Regions from separate parts of the Homo sapiens genome. Here region 1 is reported to be linked to region 2. Evidence: microRNA targets listed by miRTarBase, many of them from high-throughput screens and not tested one by one. Region 2 holds a microRNA gene; the other region holds the end of a gene's coding sequence.
Evidence for each region. Region 2 holds the annotated microRNA hsa-miR-3664-3p (UCUCAGGAGUAAAGACAGAGUU, at 5,153-5,174, opposite strand). A microRNA usually pairs through its seed, bases 2 to 8, with sites in the 3' UTR of a target mRNA and lowers its output. Matches are read on the target gene's strand: a 7mer-m8 pairs with bases 2 to 8, a 7mer-A1 pairs with bases 2 to 7 and ends in A, and an 8mer does both.

Region 1 (7,000 bases), not on the chromosome of region 2:
GTCTACTTCTCTTTGGAGGATGAGCTCAAAAGCAAGGTGGGGAGAGCCATCCCTTCTGCCACCACTAACTCTGTTTCCACGGGCTTTTGGGCCCGTATGTTCATGGCCGTCTGCCTTTCACAGGTGTTTGCAGAAAAAATGGGCCTGGAGACAGGCTGGAACTGCCACATCTCCCTCACACCCAATGGTGACATGCCTGGCTCCGAGATCCCCCCCTCCAGCCCCAGCCACGCAGGCTCCCTGCATGATGACCTGAATCAGGGTAAGGGCAAAGGCGTGGGGTGGGGACGGGGTGGCGGTGGGAGGATTCCCCTCCTCAGAGCCACAGCCAGGAAGAGCCTCCGGAGAGCCCTCCAGTTAAGTACATTCCCTTGGGAAATGGCTCTGATGTCCCTGCGGGAAACAGTAGTCAGCAGGAAGGAGTGGACACAGGCAAAAAATTCTCTGCAGGGCAAGGACAGGTTCCCAGAAGGCTGGTCCCAAGGTGAGGGAGAGGCTTTTGTCCCCACAGTGTCCCGAGATGATGCAGAAGGGCTCCTCCTCATGGAGGAGGAGGGCCACTCGGACCTCATCAGCTTCCAGCCTACGGACAGCGACATCCCCAGCTTCCTGGAGGACTCCAACCGGGTACGATGGCAGGATCTGTCTCACGTGTTCCTGTAGTGGTCCCATAGCTGGTCCAGGGGAGAGGTAGAGAGGTGGTGGGCAGGCGGTGGAGGGGAGGGATGCTGATCCCCATCCCGAAGCCGCTGGCATCTCTGCTTTCTCCAGGCCAAGCTGCCCCGGGGTATCCACCAAGTGCGGCCCCACCTGCAGAACATTGACAACGTGCCCCTGCTAGTGCCCCTTTTCACCGACTGCACCCCAGAGAGTGAGTGCTGTGGCCATGGGTACTTGGGCAACCTGGTCCCGTCGGCTGAGCTCTGCCTGGGCCTGCGTACCCCGTGGGCTCTGGAGGGATGTAGGTTTCCCATGCAGGGAGTAAAGGAACCTGGGCTGGGATCAGCTGGGGAATCTTGTGGGTTGGAGTCAGAAGTGCCGATGTTCACATGATCCCGCTGCCGGGGGTGGGATTGTTTCAAAGAGGGGCCCACCTCCCATCGCCTCCTGCTCTCCTGTCCCATGGGTCTCTGCCCAGTGCCCACTTGGTGCTCTGCCTGCCTGACTCTGGTGCCCTTATACGCTGTCCTCAGCCATGTGTGAGATGATAAAGATCATGCAAGAGTACGGGGAGGTGACCTGCTGCCTGGGCAGCTCTGCCAACCTGCGGAACAGCTGCCTCTTCCTCCAGAGCGACATCAGGTCAGGGCGGGACCCTGGAGCCTGCGGGCCAGCCTCTACCTCCCAGACCGGAGGATCAGATGGGCCTGCGTGGGGCTGGGGGTGTGTACTATAGCCGACCTCGCCCTGGCTGGGACCAATGCACCTGGGCATGGTGGGAGAAGAGGGTGGGGTGCCCAGTCCTGTGGGAGATACAGCTGAAGTGTGTGTGTCCCCCACCCTGAGCAGCATTGCCCTGGATCCCCTGTACCCATCCCGTTGCTCCTGGGAGACCTTTGGCTACGCCACCAGCATCAGCATGGCCCAGGCCTCGGATGGCCTTTCTCCCCTGCAGCTGTCAGGGCAGCTCAACAGCCTGCCCTGTTCCCTGACCTTTCGCCAGGAGGAGACCATCAGCATCATCCGGCTTATCGAACAGGTGGGTGCTTCGGCAGGCAAAGGAGGAGAGACGCAGGACAGGACCCGCCTGGGGTGGGAGTAGCAGCAAAGGACCTGTTTGAACCCGGGGACCTCATTCCCCAGCCCTCCGAGCGGGCTCTCCCAGGCAGTTACATTCGCCTCTGCTCCCCTCGTAGAAGCATCCTGGGCGTCTGGCTCTTGGCTAAAGTGTGTCAGCTGTTGGGCCTGGGAGAGGCCAGGTAGACCCAGGCCATAATCTGTCCCTCTTGGTCCCTAGGCTCGGCATGCCACCTATGGCATCCGTAAGTGCTTCCTCTTCCTGCTGCAGTGCCAGCTGACTCTTGTGGTCATCCAGGTGAGGTGGGGCCCGCACAGGCATTGCCCCCGTGCCACTCACCCCTTCACTCAGGGGCCAGCTGAAAATCTGAGGAAGGAGGCTGGGGTTAGCAGTACAGTCAAGGGGTCCCCCCAGAGCCTCTGTGAAGCCCCTGGGCTTTTTGAGCTGACCCTCATTGGCAGAAGAGTATTCCCTCCGGCCCCTGTTCCCTCTGGCAGGATGTGAGCATCTATCTGGGCCCAGGGCAAGGGAGCTCGGGGGCTCCTATGCCCTTATTATTTGCCTGAATTGAACTGTGGCTCTTGGCTTCTTTCCTGGTCTAGTTCCTTTCTTGCCTGGTCCAGCTGCCGCCACTCCTGAGTACCACCGACATCCTGTGGCTGTCCTGCTTTTGCTACCCTCTGCTCAGGTGAGATGCCATGTATCTTCCCCACACCCCATGCCTAAGCAGGAGGTGTCTGGATGTCACTGTGCAGCCCCAGGAGCCCAAGGTTCTGGAACTGCTCAGGTCTCACCTCCTCTGGTACAGGAGGCATGGAGGGAACCCCCTTTGTCTTTTTTTTTTTTTTTTTTTTTTTTTTTGAGATGGAGTCTCGCTCTGTCACCCAGGCTGGAGTGCAATGGTGCAATCTCTGCTCATTGCAACCTCCGCCTCCCGGGCTCAAGTGATTCTCCTGCCTCAGCCCCCTGAGTAGCTGGGATTACAGGCACCCACTATCATGCCTGGCTAATTTTTGTATTTTTAGTAGAGATGGGTTTTTGCCATGTTGGCGAGGCTGGTTTTGAACTCCTGACCTCAAATGATCTGCCCATCTCAGCCTCCCAAAGTGCTGGGATTACAGGTGTGAGCCACTGCCGTCCAGCCTTTGTTTTATTCCATCCCCTCACCAGACTCGACCTCACGCGCAAGACTCCCTAGAGGTTCCCTCTATGAGAATTGAGGGACAGAGGGTCATTGTCACCATCCCTCTACCTGATCTCTGCTTTTCAGCATCTCTCTGCTGGGGAAGCCCCCCCATAGCTCCATCATGTCTATGGCAACGGGGAAAAACCTCCAGTCCATTCCCAAGAAGGTAAGCAAAACAGACCCTGTGAGCCTTGCAAGTGAGCATGGAAGGGACTGAGGATTGGGGGAGGAGAGAGGGGCTAATCTGGAAGGCTCTGGATGGGGGATTCCAGCAGAACTCCGGCACTTGGTTCCTAGTCTTCCCCCAGATCAAAGAGGAGGTAGTGGCACAGAGCTGGGAAAGACCCTTGCTGGGGCTTGAGCTCCCTATCCCCCCAGGCCTGACCATTTACTAAGAGCCCGTTGAATACGTGGAAGAGCTAGGAGCAGCCGGCAGAGGGGCTGTGCGCCCCAGGAGTGACTGGCCTTGTTCCCGCAGACCCAGCACTACTTCCTGCTCTGCTTCCTGCTCAAGTTCAGCCTCACCATCAGCTCCTGCCTCATCTGCTTTGGCTTCACACTGCAGAGCTTCTGTGACAGCTCCCGGGACCGCAACCTCACCAACTGCTCCTCCGTCATGCTGCCCAGGTGGGTCCCAGCCCCAGAGATCCACCCATCGCCTGCCTCGCCTCGAGGCTTCCTCCCTCCCCACCCCAGCCTACCTCCCTGCGGCCCTAGAGGGGCTGAGCCCATGCCTCACTTTGGCAGCAACGACGACAGGGCTCCAGCCTGGTTTGAGGACTTTGCCAATGGACTGCTGTCGGCTCAGAAGCTCACGGCCGCCCTGATTGTCCTGCACACTGGTGAGAGGGCTCCCTGGGAGGGCGTGGATGATGGTGGGAGAGGAGCCCCACTGTGGAAGTCTGACCCCCACATCGCCCCACCTTCCCCAGTCTTCATTTCCATCACCCATGTGCATCGCACCAAGCCCCTGTGGAGAAAGAGCCCCTTGACCAACCTCTGGTGGGCCGTGACAGTGCCTGTGGTGTGAGTATTGCTAGGATGGAGGGCGGAGTGTGGGCTGGGGAGGAGAGGGCCTTCTGCAGGGCTAGGATCGGAGGGCGGGACCGGGGCCAGTGGTTTAACTGTACCCTGCCTGAGCTAACTGTTGTACTGGGAAGAGCAGGGAAGGAAGCAAGCAGTGTCGGGTTCACACGGGGCCGCCACCTCCTGCAGGCTGCTGGGTCAGGTGGTCCAGACGGCTGTGGACCTGCAGCTGTGGACACACAGGGACAGCCACGTCCACTTTGGCCTGGAGGACGTGCCCCTGCTGACATGGCTCCTGGGCTGCCTGTCCCTGGTCCTTGTGGTGGTGACCAATGAGATCGTGAAGCTACATGAGATTCGGTGAGCTGTCAGCAGGGCGCCTCCCTCTGGGCTCAGGCATGTTCCCTAAACCTGTTACTCCCTTGGCGACACTCCCCCACCTTTCCGCTGCCCATCCCTCCCTCCTCCTCTGGTGTCCTGCCCCGGCCCCTGGTCTAAGGATCTTTGCCAACCTGTACTTTAATCTCCTGCCCCACCAGGGTCCGAGTCCGCTACCAGAAGCGACAGAAGCTGCAGTTTGAAACTAAGCTGGGCATGAACTCTCCCTTCTGAGCCACTGGCTGTGGTGGCTGTAGTTGCCCCCGTCCCTGGGGCTAAAGCCAGACCCATTTCTGAACAGGGGAGTTTGTATCATGAATGTTTCCAGGTTTGCTCCTGCACCCGTGGCACTGGAAACCCAGCTCCCCGTGTCAGACCCCGCTGTCTTCCTGAGCCCTGGGGCTCACTGTGGAGGAGCTGACGGCCTGGGCCCTTGGCCAGTCCTGGCTCTTCCCTGGGCCTCACCAGGGACACTCTTGAATGTATGGCCTCAGGCGCTCCCTAGAGGGGCCCTAAACCCCCTCACCTGTGAGCTACCCCCTTTAGGGATCCCTTGCCCCCTTGGAGATCCCTTGCCCCCCAGTGCCTCTGCTCGTGGGTCCCTGGACACGGCCTTGAAGCCAACCTTCTTTGGAGGAGCAACAGCAGCAGCCTTGGCCGACGCGTCCAACTCCCAAGGCTGCCGTGGAGGGCAGGGGGGTGGTGCTTGCCTGGATGTGGCCCCGAGTGCCTCCCCTCCCTCCCTCTGTGGGGGAGTCTCCCGCCTGAACCTGAAGATGGAGCAGGGCCCCCGCTTCGCCCTGGAGCCTCTTCCTGTGCCTGGCTCAAGCTGGCTGCCTGTCAGTCTTGGGGAATCTGGCCCAGGTCTCCTCAGCCTCTGCCCCAGTTCTGGGAGAAGTTTCTACTGGTGTATATTTTTTACTGGAAATGAGCCTTTTAGGAATGAATGTAGACTGGTTTGTATTAAAATGTGTCAATTGCTAAGAAATACCTGTGGCTGGTCTGTAAGGCCACTCCAGGGTCTGCCCACCCCCGGCGGTGGCTGGCAAAGGGAGGCCTAAACCTTCCTCCATCTACGCGGGTGGGTCCCTCAGGTCTGGCTCAGGCGAGACCCCTAGGGTCAGGGGTCCCCATGTCACAGAGGCAAACACACAGCCCAGTCACGTGGAATGGTGTTTTCATTGGTGTTAGTTGGGGGAAGAGGTTAATGGTTACAGAGCCAGGGCCTGGGCCAATGGGGTCAGGCTCTCCCTGCCCTCAGGTGGGCAGTCGGGGCTCCTGCTGTGGTCCGAAGCCCCTCCCCCATTGTGTCCTCTCAGGCAGTTGATAGAATAAATTCCATTTAAAATATATGCATTTCTCTCTGCTTAGAAAATAACATTTACAATTGAAAAGTTAGGACTTGTGGGATCTGTTAACCCCACTGCCTCCCACCCCTGCTAGCCCTGCCTCAGTGAGGGAAGGCGGGGGCAGGAGCTGCCTGGGCACCACCGCTGTGTATTTACATGTCCTCTGTACACCTACGGAGAGGGGGCCCGGCCAGACACACGCCTCCTCCAGCCTCTCAGGGCCTGGGCAGGATGGTGGGTGGCAAGAGGCATTCCCTTGGCACAACTTGGGACATGGGCTGGGGGGTACAGAGAAAGCACCCCCAAAGCCCCACCCCTACTTCCTCCCTGAGGAGAGAGCTCTTACCAGGGTCCCTGTCCAGGAGCAGGGCTGTCCTGCTCAATCGATCAAACCCTGGGAGGGGCTTTGCTGAGATGCAGCGGAGGTCCCTCGCTAGTCAGGTTCTAAGGTGGGCTGCCCCACAAGAGCTGTGGTGCCCACAGCCGCGGGCTGAGTGGGAAGGGGCCCTGCTAGGAGGGGCACTTCAGCCTGACCAGCCCTTGGCCCGTCCCTAGGGTGGCAGGGGCCTCTTCTGTGCTGGGGCAAAGGCAGTGGACTTCGGCAGGTCACAGTGGGCACTGCTGGAGGGCTCAGTCCAGCATGGCGTCCAGCTGGTCAGCCAGGGCGTCGAACATGGTGCTGATGTCATCCAGAATGTGCTTGGTGGAGGCGCTGGGGGTGCTGCAGCAAGGGGAAGGATGCGGTCAGATCAGCCAGTGGCCTGCACCCCACTGGCCCTGGGGCAGGGAGCTGTCATAGCTCCCAGAGGCTCAGGGAGGCAAGGGACCGGCCAGGCTCCTGTGCCTCTTAAATGGTAGCCACCAGGATTCCCTGATCTAGGTGATTTCAACACCTGGCCTCTTATCCCGTTAGTGCCTGCAATGTCCCCCTCCAACATCCCCATGATCCCTGGGCAGAGGATGCAGGGAGCACTGTTTCTCTGCAGCCTTCTCTCCCTCCCCATCCGGCCCCCCTCACCCCTCTTGCTCCTTGGTGCCAATGCTCTTCTCTGCGGCTCTCAGTGCAGCTGCCAGGGACGAGCTGGTCTGCTCCAGTCTCTGCTGGGCCTGGCCTGGGCCCACAGTCCCAGTGCTCTCAGGCCGTGGAGGAGGCACTGGGCGGGGGCCGAGCCGGGGCGCTAGCTTAGGGCCAGAAAATGCCAGCTGGGTGCAGGCCACCGACACAGGCTTGGGGGCTGTTCCTGCAGAGACAAAAAGGTTGGCTTGGGACTTGGCTGGGTCAGACACAACCCTGCCAGCAGTGACTCTCCCACAGGCCTCCCC
Region 2 (7,744 bases):
GAGAGAGAATGAGGTCCCTTGGGGTAGTGGATCCCCACTCTGACTCTCTCAAGTTCTAGAATACGAAGGTGCCATCCTGAGGTCAGCTGTCTCCTATCCGGGTAGGGGTAGGTGGAGGGTGCTGGTGGAAGGACGCTCTTGTCCGAGTCCTCAGTAAATCCTGAACACAGGGGAGGACCAATGAGGAGAGTGCACACGTCTTGGCTCCACACGGGCAGCAGGGCCGAGAGCAGGTCCGGAGGCCAAGGATCAGGCCAGGACTCCACCAACGGAGGACGAGAGGCAAGAGCCGCTGTTAACAGCAAACAGCTATGTCCACTGCTGGGGAGTACGGCATGCGCATGAGGGCTGAGGGGTGGGGCAGGACGGGCCAAAGCTGCCTGAGCCAGGGATGCCTTCACAACCTCGCTGCCCCAGCCAGAAAAGTCTGCCCAGGCCACCGGCTCGTGAATGTGGGGTCAGCTCAGCCATGTTCCCTCTTGAGAATCGACGCTATAGATTTGTATTCATTACCCACTGAATTCAGAGCCAGCCAGACATCCACGTCTCACCCCAATAAAAGCTTTAACATTTACCCAGCGGCACAGAGTCATTATTCTGTGACAATATTCCACTGCTGACCTTTATTGCCTAGGACTCTCTGTGAAGTTTCCAAGGAAGCATTTCAGCGTTCAGCACACAGGACCCAGGTCCACCGCCTCCACTGCTCCTGCACCGGCCGGCCCCCGCCTCCCGCCCATCCATCTCTGGGCTGTTTGCCTCTGTCTGGACTTCATGTACTGACAGTGTGTTTGCTACCACTTAATTCCATCACTGACTGTGCCTCCCTCTAAATTGATCAGTGTCAATTCTGGGCAAATAATTGGGTGGAATTACCAGCGGGTCCACCCGTGCTGATTATGCAAATAATGTACGCCGTCACCAAGGGCCCGGCGCTGGCAGTAAGTGTCTAAACTCCTTAGCATTTGACAGCATAATTGAAGACACAAATATGAAGCCTAATGAAGAGTTTCTTTTCTCGAGGAAGACTCCCTCGTTCTCACTTTCAATGGCTTGGCCCAGAGGGTGCAGGTGAAGAAGGTGGGTCGCATAGACACAGAGGCTGAGGGGGTCGGCATACGGACACCTGTCCACGGACATGGGGCGGTGTGATCTGCTCTTGGACAACCCCAGGGTCATAACCTGTGCCTGCTATGATAAGCCTGGTCAAGCTGGATAAACTCCCAGGCCTCGGTTTCTCCATGTGTAAAATGGAAATAATACTATAATAAACAATGACAACAGTCAAGAGTCCCTCTACCACCACTGCTACTAGCTGGGCACGAGGCTATTGACTATTATTTATCCCTGTGATACAGAGGAGGCAACTGTGGCACAGAGAGGTTAAGTAACTTGTCCAAAGTCACACAGCCTGTGAAGGGCAGAGTCAAGACACAAGCCAAGAAGGTGGGTTCCAGAGTCCAGGCTCAGCCTATGGACTGAGCTGGGCCATGTCCACATCTTACACAGTCAGCCTCACACCCCACGGGGGCAGCCCAGGGCCCCACCCACACAGGGAGCACAGTCACTGGAGCTGCCACGGCCAGTCCTAAGTCCCATCCGGGAAAGGGCTCTGGCACGGAAAGCCCTGTTTGGACACAACATGCGGCCTCCTCATCCTCACCCATTCTCTTCCACAAACCTGCCCAATTCTCACCCAGGGTGCCAAAGTCCAGAGGATGTTGGGGGAGGGCGTCCTGCAGTTAGAAGCCACATCCAGGTGGGCGCTGAGTGCTAGAGGCTGAACTGTGTCACCTGCAAAATTCATGTGACGCAGGCTTCACCCCCAGGATATCAGCATGTGTGCGACTGTATAGGGAGATGGGCTTTAAAGAGGCAACTAAATTAAAGTGAGGCCAGATGGGGCAGGTCCTAAATCCAATCCAACTGGCGTCCTTACAAGAAGAGATCAGGACACAGACATACAGAGGGATGACCCCATGAGGATACAGGGAGAAGGCAAAGTCTACAAGCCAAGGAGAGAGGTCTCCGGAGGAACCAGTCCAGAGACCCCTTGATCTCAGCCTTCCAGCCTCCAAAACGGTGAGACGATAAATGACTTGTGTAAGCCTCCCTGTCTGTGGTGCTTTATGACGGCAGCTGGAGCAAACTCATACACCATAGATCCCGACAATCTGTCCTAGAGGCCTCCAGACCAGCAGGTTTCAGAGGGAGGACAATGTATCGGTCCACAGGCCACAGAATGCTTGGGATGCACCGATCGGCACGTTATTAAACCCACTGGGACCAACAGAACTCCACACATCCCATACCAGAGTGATTAATGCTTCCAATCTCAGCCTGTGCTGTAGGAGGCTTTCATATTTCACGGCAAAGTTGTGCAGACCAGTTGGTTCATGGCAGGCTGTCTGTCCCACCTTGCTGCCTATGGCCTCTCCACCAAGCCAGGCTCGGGTATGGAGCTCCTGACCGTCCACAGCACTCTGTCTGCTCTGTGTCCTGGGCTAGAAACCTGATAACCAGCAGATACTTCCTTGGGTTGGGCACCCTGGGCTCGGTGACCACCGTGTCATCTTGGCATGTCCCCATCATCTCCTTGATTGTCCTCCCCCAGACAGGGGGCTCGACGGGGAGTCCATGGTGGTGTTGTTGGAAGATGGGATGAGAACTGACACTGTGGTCACTTACTGCCGCACTGGGTGCTCAGTCGCCGCTGGGTCAGTGCAGGGACCTCACCACCAATTATGTGAATGCCTCCCCTCTGCCTGAAGCTCCCCAGGCTCTGCCTTCTCACACACCCAGAAACCCTCACAAAAGTCCACAAGAGTGTCCCCCCAAATCCATGTCCACCCAGAACCTACGAATGGGGCCTTAACTGGAAATGGGTCATTGCCTCCTTGCAGATGTGATCAGTGAGGTTGCGACGAGGTAATACTGGATTAGGGAGGGTCCTAAATCCAATAATTAGTGTCCTTATAAAGAGAGTGTGGCCCAGGGCACTATGGAAGAGGTTTGAGGATGAGCACAGCAGCAGAATCTGAGTGCTGGAGGCTCACCCAGGCAGAGTGTGCTCCACTTCGTTCCAGGGGACTGAGAGAAATGAACCCGGGGTGAGACCCAGAGCCGTCCCCTCCTGCAGTCCATCTGGGCCAAAATGAGAGCCCAACCAGTGGGGAGGGAGGGGCAGATTCAGGAAATAGAAAAAGTGGAAGGGGCTGGTTCTGGACAGATGGGAAAAGGGCAGGTGAGCGCCAGGAAAGATCTAGGAAGGTTTTTGGGTTTTCAGTTCCTGGGCCATAACTGAGATGGGGTGCCCAGGAGGAAGGGCCAGCTGGCCAGGAAAGATGGGGTATGTTCACTGGAGCTCCTGTAACCACAGCCTGGGTGACTGAAACCACAGGGATGAATTGTCTCATGGTTCTGGAGGTTGGAAGTCTGAGGTCAAGGTGTTGGCAGTGGGGGGGTTCACACTGGGGACTGCAGGGAGACTCTGTTCCAGGCCTGTCTCTCCAGCTCCCAGTGGCCTGTAGGCAATCTTTGGCATTCCTTGACTGACAGAAGCATCACCCAGAGCTCTGCCTTCATCTTTGTGTGAGGTTTGCTCCGAGTGCATGGCTGTGGCCACATTTCATTCATTCATTCATTCATTTATTTATTTGAGATGGAGTCTTGCTGTGTCGCCCAGGCTGGAGTGCAGTGGCACGATCTCGGCTCACTGCAGCCTCCGCCCACACAGATTCAAGTGATTCTCCTGCCTCAGCCACCCAAGTAGCTGGGACTACAGGCACCCGCCACCACGCCCGGCTAATCTTTGTATTTTTAGTAGAGACGGGGTTTCACCATGTTGGCCAGGCTGGTCTCGAACTCCTGACTTCAGGTGATCCATCCGCCTCAGCCTCCCAAAGTGCTGGGATTATAAGCATGAGCCACTGCACCCGGTCCCATTTCCTCTTTTTATAAGAATATCAGTCCTACTGGATTAGGGCCCAATCTAATGACCTCATTTTCAGCTGATGACTTCTGTAAAGACCCTACCTCTAAACAAGGTCACACTCTGAGATCCTCAGGGTGATACTTCAACATATGCATTTGCAGGGACACACTTCAAAGGGGAGTCAGGGGTCTGGGCTCGCCTGGTGGCAGGCTCTGCAGGAGATGAGTCTGAGGGTCCAAGAGGAGGTCCAGGGAGCGCTCTGCAAGCCACCAGCCCCGAAGATCACTGGCACCATAGGAGCAGGGCAGGATGGGCGGGGGTGGGGAGCAGAGAGCAGAGCAAGGGCAACCACAGAACCTGGGGCCACACCACCTTCTGAGATGAGCCACATAGCCTGGCACTGAGCCTCCTTCACGTGCTGAGGCCACATCTGTGTGCCATGGAGCCTGTGAGCCCCTGGAGGGAGAGGCTGTGCCTGGGACCCTGCGGATTCCCCAACACATTTGCTGAACAAGCAGGGCAGGGAGAGAAAGGAAAGTGAGGTCGAGACAAATATTATAAATATGACCATATCCCTGATGGAGAAGAAAGTCAAGAAAGAGTTCATGTTGAAAGGCAACACGGGCCAGACACACCTGGTACTCAGGGGCCCTGCAGGGTTTTACAGCAAACTGTGGCCACATGGGGGCTGGGAGGGGACAGCCAGGAAAGAGGCACAGTCCCCATCTGAATTTGACTGAGAGACTCTTTGAAGCCGTCTGAGATTTCCATATACGATTTCTATTAATATTTAAGGCAAGACGCATCCCATCCTCCATAACAACACCGTCTTGAAAGAAGCCTTTGAACTACTTGAAAGGTAAACCCAGCATTATTCTTGGATTAAGAACTCTTGTTCATTCAACAAATACAGCCCCACGACGACATCCCTGAACACCAGAGCCAGAGGTGCCTTGGCATGTGCACGCTGCCTGCTTCTGCAGCAGTAGGATGATGCGTGTGTGGCCTGTTACGTCACACCGCCAGTGGGTCTGGGCAGTGTCCCATTGCCAATTGCGGGAGGAGTCCTTCAGGGCACGGATGAATAATCATGCTAAGTAGGATAAATAAAAACTATAAATAGCCTCAAATCAGTTCAGGTCAAGTACTACTGCCAACGAGCTACGGAGAAGGCATTCGCTTTTCAGATCTTTTTGCAGATCCACATTGAAGGTAGGGAACTCTGTCTTTACTCCTGAGAGCTCGTGTTGGAAGGTACTCATGAGTGAAGACAGAGTTCCCTACCTTCAAGTTTACAGAGGAGACGGGGTGCACAGTGGAAAGGAGGGGAAAAAAACCCCACACGCATGAAGAGGAAAGACAAGTAGGATGCAGGCTTGGAGGTGGAGGCTCGGCGGGACGGGGAGAAAAAAGGACAAGACCCTTCCCTAGAAGCGCTTGGTGGACACAGTGGGTGCAAACGACCAAGTGGCTGGATGGAGGGAAGAGAGACCCTCAGATGGAGGGAATAGGGGGCCCCCATACAGAGGGGCCCCCCACAGACCAGAGTCAGGGGCACACAGGTCCGTGAGCTACGTGGAATGAGAGATGGGTCCCTGGACCACATTACTTCCGGCTCCCTGGTGTATCTCCTCCACGTTCTGGCCACCTGCGGGTCCCTGTTTTCCTCCACACTGACCACTTGAAAACTGATGGGTGGCAATTTTCACCCCTCATTGTCCTAAGGGTCGTGGGGGCTGCTTTGCTTGGTGCTGGAGTCTGGGGCCACAGTGGAACATGGCATTGATTGCTAAGAGGAAGGGACCCCACGATGCCCTGTAGAGCCCAGCTCCTCGGGGCAGGAGGAGCACATATCCACTGTCTGCCCTCTCCCCACACTCATGACCTCCACCTCCCCCAGCCCCAAACATTACAAAAGCTAAAGACATCCTGGGCACCTGTGAGAAAGGAAGAGCGGAGGTAGTTCCCACGTCCATCCTGGTGCCTCTGCCTCCCGGGTGGCGACCCTCAGGAAGGTGAAACCTGCAGCTTGGGCCCTGCAGTTTATAGAATGATATGTTTGTGGTTCCCTAAAACAAAGAGCCGTTGCCACAGCAACCGTGGCATCCCAGCACTCAGAGGCTATTCTCAGACACTAAACAATGAGTTTTGCCTTTCAAATGCATTTGATACAATTTGCTTGGAAGGCATTAACATCCTCTGACAAAACCCATGAGGAAGAGGAGGGCAGGTGAGAGCTGACAAGGTCGAGACTTGCAGGGCTTCCAGGAATCACACCCATTCATGAGACAGGAGGGCCCAACGGCCCCAGACACTTTCAATAGGCAAACAGGAAATGGGAAACAGCAGAGGGGAGGCAGGCAGGATCCCTAACCTTCCAACAGCAGTTCCGTGGAGGAGGAGGGGCTGCCCAGAGGTGAGGCAGTTGGGATCCCTAACCTTCTAGCAGTGGTCCCATGAAGGAGGAGCGGCTGCCACACACCCTTTCGGGGCTTCTTCAGGAGAGACGTTCCACAGTCCCATCTGGGGCAGTTCTCTTCTTCAGGGTCACTGCAAAGATGGCAGCACAGGCCAGAGCCCGCAGCAACCACTTAATCCACCCTGCTCACTCTGCAAAGGACATTGAGTGCGTCCCCTGCTCACAGCCAGCCATTGCTTCCTCCATTTACCATTTTTTTTTTTTTTGCCAGTTCATGAACAACTTTGCTATTGTTTACAACGATCTCATGGGATTAGAATACCAAACAGTGATGCCAGTGAGAAGACCAAATAACCTTCATTCCTAGCACCAGCCTCCTGTCACTAGCACGCTGGGCAAGCTGCCCTCAAAAACAGCTCCCGGGCGTCAGTGACAGGAACACGTGTCATCAGGAAAAAGGCATGATGTAGGCAGGCTGGGGGCAGCATCCCAATGCAAAGTACATTTTTGAACAGACTAAAGAACATGTGAACAGTACACAGAAATTCCTCCATCTAGCCATCTATCCATCTACCTATAGATCCATCCATTCATCCATCCATCCATCTTATCTATCAATCCATCTATCTAATCTATCCTATCTATCCATATCCATCTATCCATATCTATCTAATCTATCTACCTACCTACCTAATCTGTCCATCCATCCATCCATATCTATATACTCCATCTATCTATCCATTCACCCATCCAGCTATCCCTCTAATCTAATCTAATCCAATCTAATCTAATCTAATCTATCTAATCTATCTAATCTATTTATATGTAATCTATCTATCTATCCATGATTTATCTATCTATCTAATCTATCTATTGAGACAGGGTCTCTGTTACACACACTGGAGTGCACTGGCCCAGCCGTAGCTCACTGTAGCCTACAACTCCTGAACTCAAGCAACCCTCCTGCCTCAGCCTCCTGAGAAGCTGGAACTACAGGCACATGCCCTTCCTCTGTATGGCAAAATTATTTTCATTAACAGTCATGTAATAACCATCATTTTATTGATTTGTGCATCAGTTTTAAAACCAAATATTTTGAAAGAATGAATGTCAATTTTAAAGGTATTATCCAAATCCAATAAAATAGTTCATGTAAGCATTGAAATCTGCATATCTGCATTTACTAAAAAAAAAAAAAAAAAAAAAAAATTCCACCTTGTAGTTCACATCCACTGCCGTTTCAAATTTTAAACACAGATGAAAACTCCGAGTGGCTACCTAGAATGACAGCACTGAAGGAACACGAGTTCACTTTGTCTTTATAGTTACTGTGCCCTCATGTCTGTTTCAAATCTACCGTGTAATAGCAGGAATGGTGATCACAGGGCATG

Region 1: the mRNA of CASKIN2 is a reported target of hsa-miR-3664-3p. Seed matches in the 3' UTR shown: 7mer-A1 at 5,891-5,897 and 7mer-A1 at 5,642-5,648.

Annotation. Positions count from the first base shown.
Region 1 is chr17:75,494,773-75,501,772 of GRCh38, forward strand. CASKIN2 (CASK interacting protein 2) reads right to left here. Exons shown (of 20, transcript NM_020753.5): 19 at 6,696-6,918; 20 at 5,489-6,398. The coding sequence ends at 6,308. TMEM94 (transmembrane protein 94) reads left to right here. Exons shown (of 32, transcript NM_014738.6): 19 at 1-36; 20 at 124-262; 21 at 512-627; 22 at 772-871; 23 at 1,194-1,302; 24 at 1,510-1,699; 25 at 1,958-2,035; 26 at 2,341-2,426; 27 at 3,009-3,090; 28 at 3,403-3,551; 29 at 3,672-3,766; 30 at 3,857-3,950; 31 at 4,140-4,310; 32 at 4,490-5,680. The coding sequence ends at 4,562. It overlaps MIR6785 (microRNA 6785), which reads left to right and starts at 3,776; the gene lies at 3,776-3,856.
Region 2 is chr11:70,867,137-70,874,880 of GRCh38, forward strand. MIR3664 (microRNA 3664) reads right to left here and starts at 5,232; the gene lies at 5,134-5,232. All of the region lies in intron 11 of SHANK2 (SH3 and multiple ankyrin repeat domains 2), which reads right to left.